Regions from separate parts of the Homo sapiens genome. Here region 2 is linked to region 1. Evidence: fine-mapped expression QTL. A gene starts in region 1. The other region holds a variant in brackets. All regions are shown on one strand. Distances are from middle to middle.

Region 1 (4,231 bases):
CTCACTAACATGGTGAAACCCCGGCTCTACGAAATACAAAAAAACTAGCAGGGTGTGGTGGTTCATGCCTGTAATCCAAGCTACTTGGGAGGCTGAGACAGGAGAATCGCTTGTACCTGGGAGGCGGAGGTTGTGGTGAGCCGAGATCGCACCATTGCACTCCAGCCTGGGCAATAAGAGTGAAACTCCGTCTCAAAAAAAAAAAAGAAAGAAAGAAAGAAAGAAAGAAAGCAAGAAAGCATATGGTGTCTCCTTTTTGTCAGGACTCCTCAGTGAATCGGACATGGATTTGGTGCCACCTACCCCTGCTGAGAGCAGCAGGACATGATATGTATACACACATATCTTAATTAGCCTTAAATTCTGAGCAACCTTGGTTGTTAGGTCAGAGAAAATCTGGGATGGGGATAGAGAAGGAAAGTATTGTGGCTTCAGCCTGGAGAAGAGAGTGGAAAATGGGATGCAGGGCCTGGGTGAGGAACTGGCAAACGGGCGCAATATGTTGAGGGGTAACTTCTGCGGTGGGGAGTGGGGCTGGGGAGGGGAACTGCACAAAGCTGTAACTGGGACCACTAGAGGTCAGGATTAAAAGGCGGTATGGGAGAAATTAACCTCTATTCTTTCCCTATCTACCCCCACACATAAAGCCACTGGAGCTTTTCTCTGGACTCCAAGTCCTGAAATACTCCATTATCTGAGGCCAAGAGATGGGCTAACAGTTCTGGGACTTCCTTCCTGAGACCAGCTGCCCAGGAACGGGCACCTGCTGGGTGATGCCCACCTTAGGGGCTTACCTTGTCTTAGGCGCCCACTAACATATCTGTCTCATAGCTCACACCTGCCTCCCTGCCCCCTTGGCAGAACCCCTTCCGGTTCCTTCACAGGACCCCCCACATGGCTTCCTCCTCCTTTCACAAGTTGTGCAAAGAGGCTTGCACCTGATTCAATATTGGGATTTCCTGTAGGTCTGTCAACATGAGTGGGCCCTCCTCCCATTACCCTCTCCTTGCGCCCTGGCTTGCCTGGCCCAGCTTCCCCAGCACCAGATTCAGAACCTTAAGCTAACGAGGAATGACCAGCTAAGAATGGGGATTGGGGCTGTGTCCATCTTACTACTGTGTTTGCTAAGCCCTAAGTGCAGCTCCCTCTCTTATTTTCTCCCTGGGCTCATGTCCCCTTTCCTTAGGGCCAGCCAGGGCTGTGCTGTATTCCACCAAGTAAGTGATCAGTCCCTCAGAAACCAGCACCCCACCCCCTACCCCTGCTCTGCCCTGCTCCTCCCATTCTGGGAAGGCTACACTCTTCTCGACAAAGGTCAGTGCCTGTAGGTTCCAGTTTGCCTGCCCCTCCCCCAGCTGGGAGCCCATTTCTCTTTGCTGTCCTTTCTACCCTCACATAACCCCACACCCTGCTGGCCACTCACCGGGTGGAGAAGGGCTCCAGGACCCAAGTGCACAGCAGGCAGCCCTCTGGGGAGCAGATGGGTAGGAAGACATGTGGCGGTGGGGCACAGCCCCTCCACAGCAGCAGGTCATACGCCTGCCTGGGCCACTTCTGCCCAATCAGAGAAGGGAGCCACCAGACACTGGTGAAGGCCCCCGGAAGTGACGCCTTCTCTTCCCTGGAGCCCCTGCCTGGACCAGGGTCCACTCCTCCACCCACACACACCACGGAGAAGATTTGGATAGGGGGATCCATCTTTTCCTGGACATGGGCAACCTGGGACCTGGAGGGGGACAGGAGCAGAAGTTTTTTTCCAGGAGGAATCTGGCAGGACATTTGTGTTGCTGGGGAAGAAGCACAGAGGTCTTGTTTAAGATTGGTGGGGTTTTCACTCCCTGGCTATCCAAATTTCTTTTCCCTGGACATCATACCTGCTGCTGAAATCCAACAGGATGCTTGCTTTCCTGCTTTTCTTTCTGTAATCCCCTAGGGAGTCCTATCTTGTCATTCCCCCTTTCGAAGTGGGAACACGGATATTGCCCACATGAGAGAAATCTCCTGTTATGGGTTGGTGTTATGGGGAAAGGGTTTGGACGGGTTGAGTGGACTGTCAGGTGCGGGGCACATGTATGTGCGCACACGTGCACTGGGTTAAGCCTGAGCTTAGGTGCTCGTCTGCTGGGGTCCAGTGGCTTAGATGGCTACACACACAGACCTCTGTGCCCAGGGCCCTCCTTTGCTTGTTCTGTCTCCGTCTTCCATCTCCTACCGTTCCACATGTGACAAGAGGAATAACCAGGCCCATGTGTCCCTGTCTTAGGAAAGACAGCTGCTGGACCTCCCCCGCAAATACCTCCCTGCTGGCCCCCCTTTTCCTTTGGCCCTGGCTCTAGCTCCTTTGCTTTCTTCCCAGTCCCAGTCTCCCCACAGTCTCTGTCCTCAGGGGCTTCCTGGCCTGACCTTGATCCCATCATCCCCCTGTCCCCCAGAACTTCCTCAGGCTCTCTCCTGTTCCTCCTCCCCAAGGATGGGCATGTCTGCTGAGAAGTGTGGCCTAGATCCTGGAATTTTCCCGTCCAGCCAGACGAGATGTCTCCCAAGATTAGGAAGGAGGGTGCTGGGATAGCTGGGAGGATAGTGGGTGTGTGTGGGAGGGAGAGACAGGAGACAGGGAGGCAGGCATGACCAGGGAACCAAGAGAAAGGAGGCTGGGAGTGGGCTGGAGAGGCAGAGGGTCCCTTGGGTGAAGGAAGGGGGTGAGAAAGCAAGAGGGGACTGTCGAATGCGCCTGAGGATAAGTTACAATGAGAGGGAGATACTGTCACTCCACAGAAGGGGGAATGCTGCCGGTTTCTGGCTAGGTCCCTGTCCTGGGTAACACAAGAATGAGGAGCGACCTCAGAGAGAAGGTAGGGAGGCAGGCTAGGCAGTGAGAGAGGGTGGTGAGGGTTTGGGGGGCGCTGTGGGCCCAGGCAGGGGGAGATCGGCTGATGGACCTTTCCTGTACGTTGTCATCTTTAAAGACAAGTCTTCATCCTTCGGGCGGAACCGGGTCCTCGCTCACAGAGCGGTCCAGGCCTCAGGCCTAGCCTCTGCCCCTCCCTAGCCTGAGGCTCCCTTCCTGGGCTGGACACCGACCTCCTGGTCCAGCCGCCCTGTGGCCGCCAGCAGCGGGGGGCTCCGGGCCCGCCTCTCCTCCCCCTCTTCGCGCCCCCTGGTCCCTCCCCTCCCCCTCCCCCGCTCCCCCTTCCCCTCCCGCCCCTCCCTCCTCCCCTGCCCGGTCCCAGCCCCTCCCTCCCCTCCCCCACCCGCGATCCGGGCCGCTGCTGCTGGGTCGGACCCCCCGGGCTCAGCCCGGCCCCTCGCCGAGCTGCCGCCGCCGCCCCGTTTGCTGAGGAGGAGGCCCCCGGCCGGGGCGTCGGGCGCGGGGCATAAAACGGGCCGGAGCCGGCGCCCGGGGCAGTAGAGCCGCGTACGGCCCGGGTCAGCGCCCGCCCGCCCGCGCTCCTCCCGGCCGCTCCTCCCGCCCCGCCCGGCCCGGCGCCGACTCTGCGGCCGCCCGACGAGCCCCTCGCGGCACTGCCCCGGCCCCGGCCCCGGCCCCGGCCCCCTCCCGCCGCACCGCCCCCGGCCCGGCCCTCCGCCCTCCGCACTCCCGCCTCCCTCCCTCCGCCCGCTCCCGCGCCCTCCTCCCTCCCTCCTCCCCAGCTGTCCCGTTCGCGTCATGCCGAGCCTCCCGGCCCCGCCGGCCCCGCTGCTGCTCCTCGGGCTGCTGCTGCTCGGCTCCCGGCCGGCCCGCGGCGCCGGCCCAGAGCCCCCCGTGCTGCCCATCCGTTCTGAGAAGGAGCCGCTGCCCGTTCGGGGAGCGGCAGGTAGGTGGGCGCCCGGGGGAGGCGCGGGCGGGGAGTCGGGCTCGGGGCGAGTCAGCGCCAGCCCGGAGGGGGCGCGGGGCGCAGGTGGCTCGGCGCGGCGGGCGGCCCGGAGGGTGGGCGGGGGCAGAAGGGCGCGGTGCCTGGGACCCGGGACCCGCGGGCAGCCCCCGGGGCGGCACACGGCGCGAGCTGGGCAGCGGCCTCCAGCCAAGCCCGTCCCCGCAGGCTGCACCTTCGGCGGGAAGGTCTATGCCTTGGACGAGACGTGGCACCCGGACCTAGGGGAGCCATTCGGGGTGATGCGCTGCGTGCTGTGCGCCTGCGAGGCGGTGAGTGCACCCCGCGGCCGGCCCGGGCCCTGGCGGGTGGGGAGCGCCGGGTCGCGCGGGCGTCGGAGTGGACTCGGAGCTGCTGAG
Region 2 (4,235 bases), 69 kb before region 1:
TGGAAGGAGGAACATGGAGTGTTGGCCCAGGAGGAAAGATGTGACCAAGTGGGAGATTTCTGTTTGGCTGGGTTAGGCGATGTCTCCTCAGTGGTAACTCCTCACCTCTACTTCCCTCTGTTTTTTTCAGGGCCTGACACATTTAGGGAAGGGCACCCTTACCCTCTGCCCCTACCACAGCGACCGGCAGCTTATGAGCCAGGTGGCCGTGGCTGGACTGCTCACTGTGCTTGTCTCTTTCCTGGATGTTCGAAACAGTGAGTTCCTGTCAGAAATTTTATATCATAGCATGCAGGGCTCTGACTCCACCCTTTCCAGGGCCACTTTGATAATTTAGGTTCAAGACCCCAGTTTAGCTCTGTATCGCTCTAGGTTTCTGAGACAGGCTTTGGGCCTGTGACATGAGACTTTCATCACCCACACTTTTGATCTGGCCCAAAGAGATTTGAGGGTGATGTGCCCAGCGTCTGCTCCTAAGTCACTGGGGAAATGCGATTTTCAAGTCTAAGGGCTGTAAGCAAAGTGAGGTGGGGGCGTCTCTGGTTCGTAGTAGGGTGTATGAGGGGAGGAGTGTGGATTCAGTCGTATGACTGACGGGTTAAAGGGTCAGCGCTGAGGTGGGCTCTCAATGTTTCTGGCCAGGCCTGTCTTTTTGTCTCTTAACTTTTTGTCCTGTCTGCTTCCCTCAGTTATTCTAGGCAAATCACACTATGTATTGTATGGGCTGGTGGCTGCCATGCAGCCCCGAATGCTGGTTACGTTTGATGAGGAGCTGCGGCCATTGCCAGTGTCTGTCCGTGTGGGCCAGGTGAGAGGCTGAGTAGAGGGGAGGGCTCAGGCTGTATTCTCAAACTGGAGAATGTACATATACTTGCTTTGCTGAAACTGGCGTGGGCGGTGGCTTGTCGCTACTTTTCCATCTCTCTTTTCAATTTTCTTACCCTACAGGCAGTGGATGTGGTGGGCCAGGCTGGCAAGCCGAAGACTATCACAGGGTTCCAGACGCATACAACCCCAGTGTTGTTGGCCCACGGGGAACGGGCAGAATTGGCCACTGAGGAGTTTCTTCCTGTTACCCCCATTCTGGAAGGTTTTGTTATCCTTCGGAAGAACCCCAATTATGATCTCTAAGTGACCACCAGGGGCTCTGAACTGCAGCTGATGTTATCAGCAGGCCATGCATCCTGCTGCCAAGGGTGGACACGGCTGCAGACTTCTGGGGGAATTGTCGCCTCCTGCTCTTTTGTTACTGAGTGAGATAAGGTTGTTCAATAAAGACTTTTATCCCCAAGGTCTCTCTGTGTCTGTTTTCTGGGGTGTCATGGCTGGAGTCTAAACTAGAGTAAGGAGTGGAAGTGAGAGGGCATTGTTAGGAGCAACGCTGAGTTTAGGTTAGCAGCACTGCCCTGGATGGAAAGAACTGAGCCCCTTCCCTCCCCTGGGTGGAAAAAACTAAGCCCCTCCTTTCTAATCATCTTCTCTTTGCATTTTCTTAGAACCCTTGAGAAGCCAATAAATGTAATGGATCTTCTTTTTGTTTTGTTTTGTTTTGTTTGAGACAGAGTCTTGCTGTCTCCCCCAGGCTGGAGTGCAGTGAGGCAGTCTCGGCTCACTGCAACGCCTGCCTTCCGGGTTCACGCCATTCTCCTGCCTCAGCCTCCCAAGTAGCTGGGACTACAGGTGCCTGCCACCACGCCCGGCTAATTTTTGTTTTTTGTTTTTGTTTTTTTGAGATGGAGTCTCGCTGTGTCATCCAGGCTGGAGTGCAGTGGTGCGATCTTGGCTCACTGCAAGCTCCACCTCCCGGGTTCACGCCATTCTCCTACCTCAGCCTCCCGAGTAGCTGGGATTACAGGCACCTGCCACCACGCCTGGCTAATTTTTCATATTTTTAGTAGAGACGGGGTTTCACCATGTTAGCCAGGATGGTCTCGATCTCCTGACCTTGTGATCCGCCTGCCTCAACCTCCCAAAGTGCTGGGATTATAGGCGTGAGCCACC[G/A]CACCCGGCAAATTTTTGTATTTTTAATAGACGGGGTTTCACCATGTTGGCCAGGATGGTCTCGAACTCCTGACCTCAGATGATCCACCTGCCTCGGCCTCCCAAAGTGCTGGGATTACAGGTGTGAGCCACCGTGCCCAGCCAATGGATATTCTTCCTAGGAGACGCAAATACACAAATTTTTACACAAACTCTTCCAAATAACTTCAGGGGGCTTGTGGATCCTGTAAATAACCCCCCACACTCACCCTCCACCACCAATACACCCTCTTCAAGCCTATCATCTTCTGACCTTGGGCTAAGGATGCCCAAGAGTGGGCAGCCTCATACTTTTCTAACTTGACTTACGTGCTACTGAATGAAAAGGACATCTTTACCTCCCGCAACCATCTGTCCCTCTTGGGAGGCTGCTATGAGGAATTTGATCATGTTAACATCTACTTCTAGGATGTCCTTGTAGAAAGTGGATTCAAGAAGGCTTGACCCTCAGCCTCCCAAGCAGGTAAGGTAGGGCTACAGGTGTGTACCACCACTTCTGGCTTTTTTTTTTTTTTTTTGAAATGGTCTCACTCTTATCACTCAGTCTGGAGTGCAGTGGCACAGTCATAGCTCACTGTAGCCTCAAACTCCTGGACTCAAGTGATCCTCCTGACTCAGCCTCCCAAGTAGTAACTAGGACTATAGGCATGACCCACCACAGCTGGCCTACTTTTATTTTTGTGGAGGTGGGGGTTTTGCTGTGTTGCCCACGCTGGTCTCAATCTCTTGGCCTCAAGGGATCCTTCCACCTCAGCTCCCAAAGTGCTGGGATCACAGGCATGAGCCAGTATGCCTGGCTATTTATTTATTTATTTATTTTGAGACAGAGTCGTGCTCTGTTGCCCAGGCTGGAGTGCAGTGGCGTGATCTCGGCTCACTCTGCGTCTGGGGTTCAAGAGACTGTCTGCCTCAGCCTCCTGAGTAGCTGGGACTACAGGCATGCGCCACCATGCTCTGCTAATTTTTGTATTTTTAGTAGAGACGGGGTTTCACCATGTTGGCCAGGATGGTCTCGATCTGACCTTGTGATCCACCTGCCTCGGCCTCCCAAAGTGCTGGGATTACAGGTGTAAGCCACCACACCTGGCCCAGTTATTTTATTACTAAATTTTTTTAGAGACAAAGTCTCACTTTGTGGCCCAGGCTGGAGTGCAGTGGCATGATCATGGCTCACTGCAGCCTTGAACTTCTAGGCTTAAGTGATTCTCCCACATCAGCCTCTCAGGTAGCTGGGATTACAGGCATGAGACATCAGCAATTTTGGATTGAGTCATCTTGGCAGCCTGTATAAAAAGGTTGAAACAGGATTAAGGAATCCCTGTTGAGCCCCTTTATGGTTCCTGCCATAATCTTCAAGTTAGCATGTGTGATGTGATGAGCCTCTGTTATTATATAATGTGGATATAGTAGTTGCCTTACCTGATTTCCAGTGGTGGTGATGTTAGAATAAAAAGTGATTTGTAAACTAAAAAGAATGATTCTCTCCCAAATTGTGATTTAGGTGATTGTGCTTTAGAATAAGACAGTTTCATAGTGGCTTTTAACCTTTCACCTTTAGTTCTTCATTCATCAGTGAATAGCAGTGGAGCCTTACTCTGCATCAGACATTCGTCTAATTTATGGGGATGCAAATACAGAAAAAAACCCCTATGCTCAAAAAGTTTAATGAAATGATGAAAACAACTGTGATCGATACTTACCAGGGTGTGAACAAGGTACCCTGGTATCACTGAGATGGGGCCTAAGTGCCTGGGGCAATCGGGGGACTTTGAGGAAGCTTATATCCTTAGAGGAAGATAAGTTTGTACAGAGGAAAAGAGGGCAGAATATAGCTAAGGGAGTAGCAAAGGCAAGAAGGAGGAAAAGCTGTTTTCAGAAACTTACAGATAATTTGGTTTGGCTAAATGTATAGGGGCCAGGGAAAAGGGTGGTAGGAGATACAGCTGGAAATTCAGGCTCAGACTAGGTTTACAAGAGCTTTGTTGTGCTAAGAATTTGACAGTATCTTTCAATGGGGCCCACTGAATGAGAGCAGAAAAGTGACATGATCAGCTATCTGGGTGAGAAAGCTAACCCTGGAGGACAGGAGAGCAGGCAAGGAAAATGAATGCTTGAACTAAGGCAGTTGAAATGGGGACATAGGGAAGGGTAGAATAGTTATTTTTTAAAAGATAAGATCAATAGGACTTGATTTT

Which allele goes with the higher level. Positions count from the first base shown, and alleles are read on the strand shown. Sizes are in standard deviations (SD) of each study's normalised expression.
In carriers of allele G in region 2, the expression in skeletal muscle of the gene that starts at base 1,556 in region 1 tends to be higher than with A alone (large effect, 1.1 SD a copy in FUSION).

The links. PIP is the estimated chance that this variant, and not a neighbour inherited with it, causes the effect.
Region 2: its variant is the best candidate, but not a certain one, in a credible set for the expression of THPO in skeletal muscle (FUSION, PIP 0.55).

The regions. Positions count from the first base shown.
Region 1 is chr3:184,376,652-184,380,882 of GRCh38, forward strand. THPO (thrombopoietin) reads right to left here and starts at 1,556. Exons shown (of 6, transcript NM_000460.4): 1 at 1,424-1,556. CHRD (chordin) reads left to right here and starts at 3,403. Exons shown (of 23, transcript NM_003741.4): 1 at 3,403-3,815; 2 at 4,041-4,144. The coding sequence starts at 3,668.
Region 2 is chr3:184,307,760-184,311,994 of GRCh38, forward strand. It overlaps PSMD2 (proteasome 26S subunit ubiquitin receptor, non-ATPase 2), which reads left to right. Exons shown (of 21, transcript NM_002808.5): 19 at 131-257; 20 at 690-808; 21 at 949-1,291. The coding sequence ends at 1,131. Among named protein-coding and RNA genes, the nearest start is that of EIF4G1, 4.7 kb to the right of the region's middle. The variant G/A (reference allele first, on the strand shown) is at 2,002.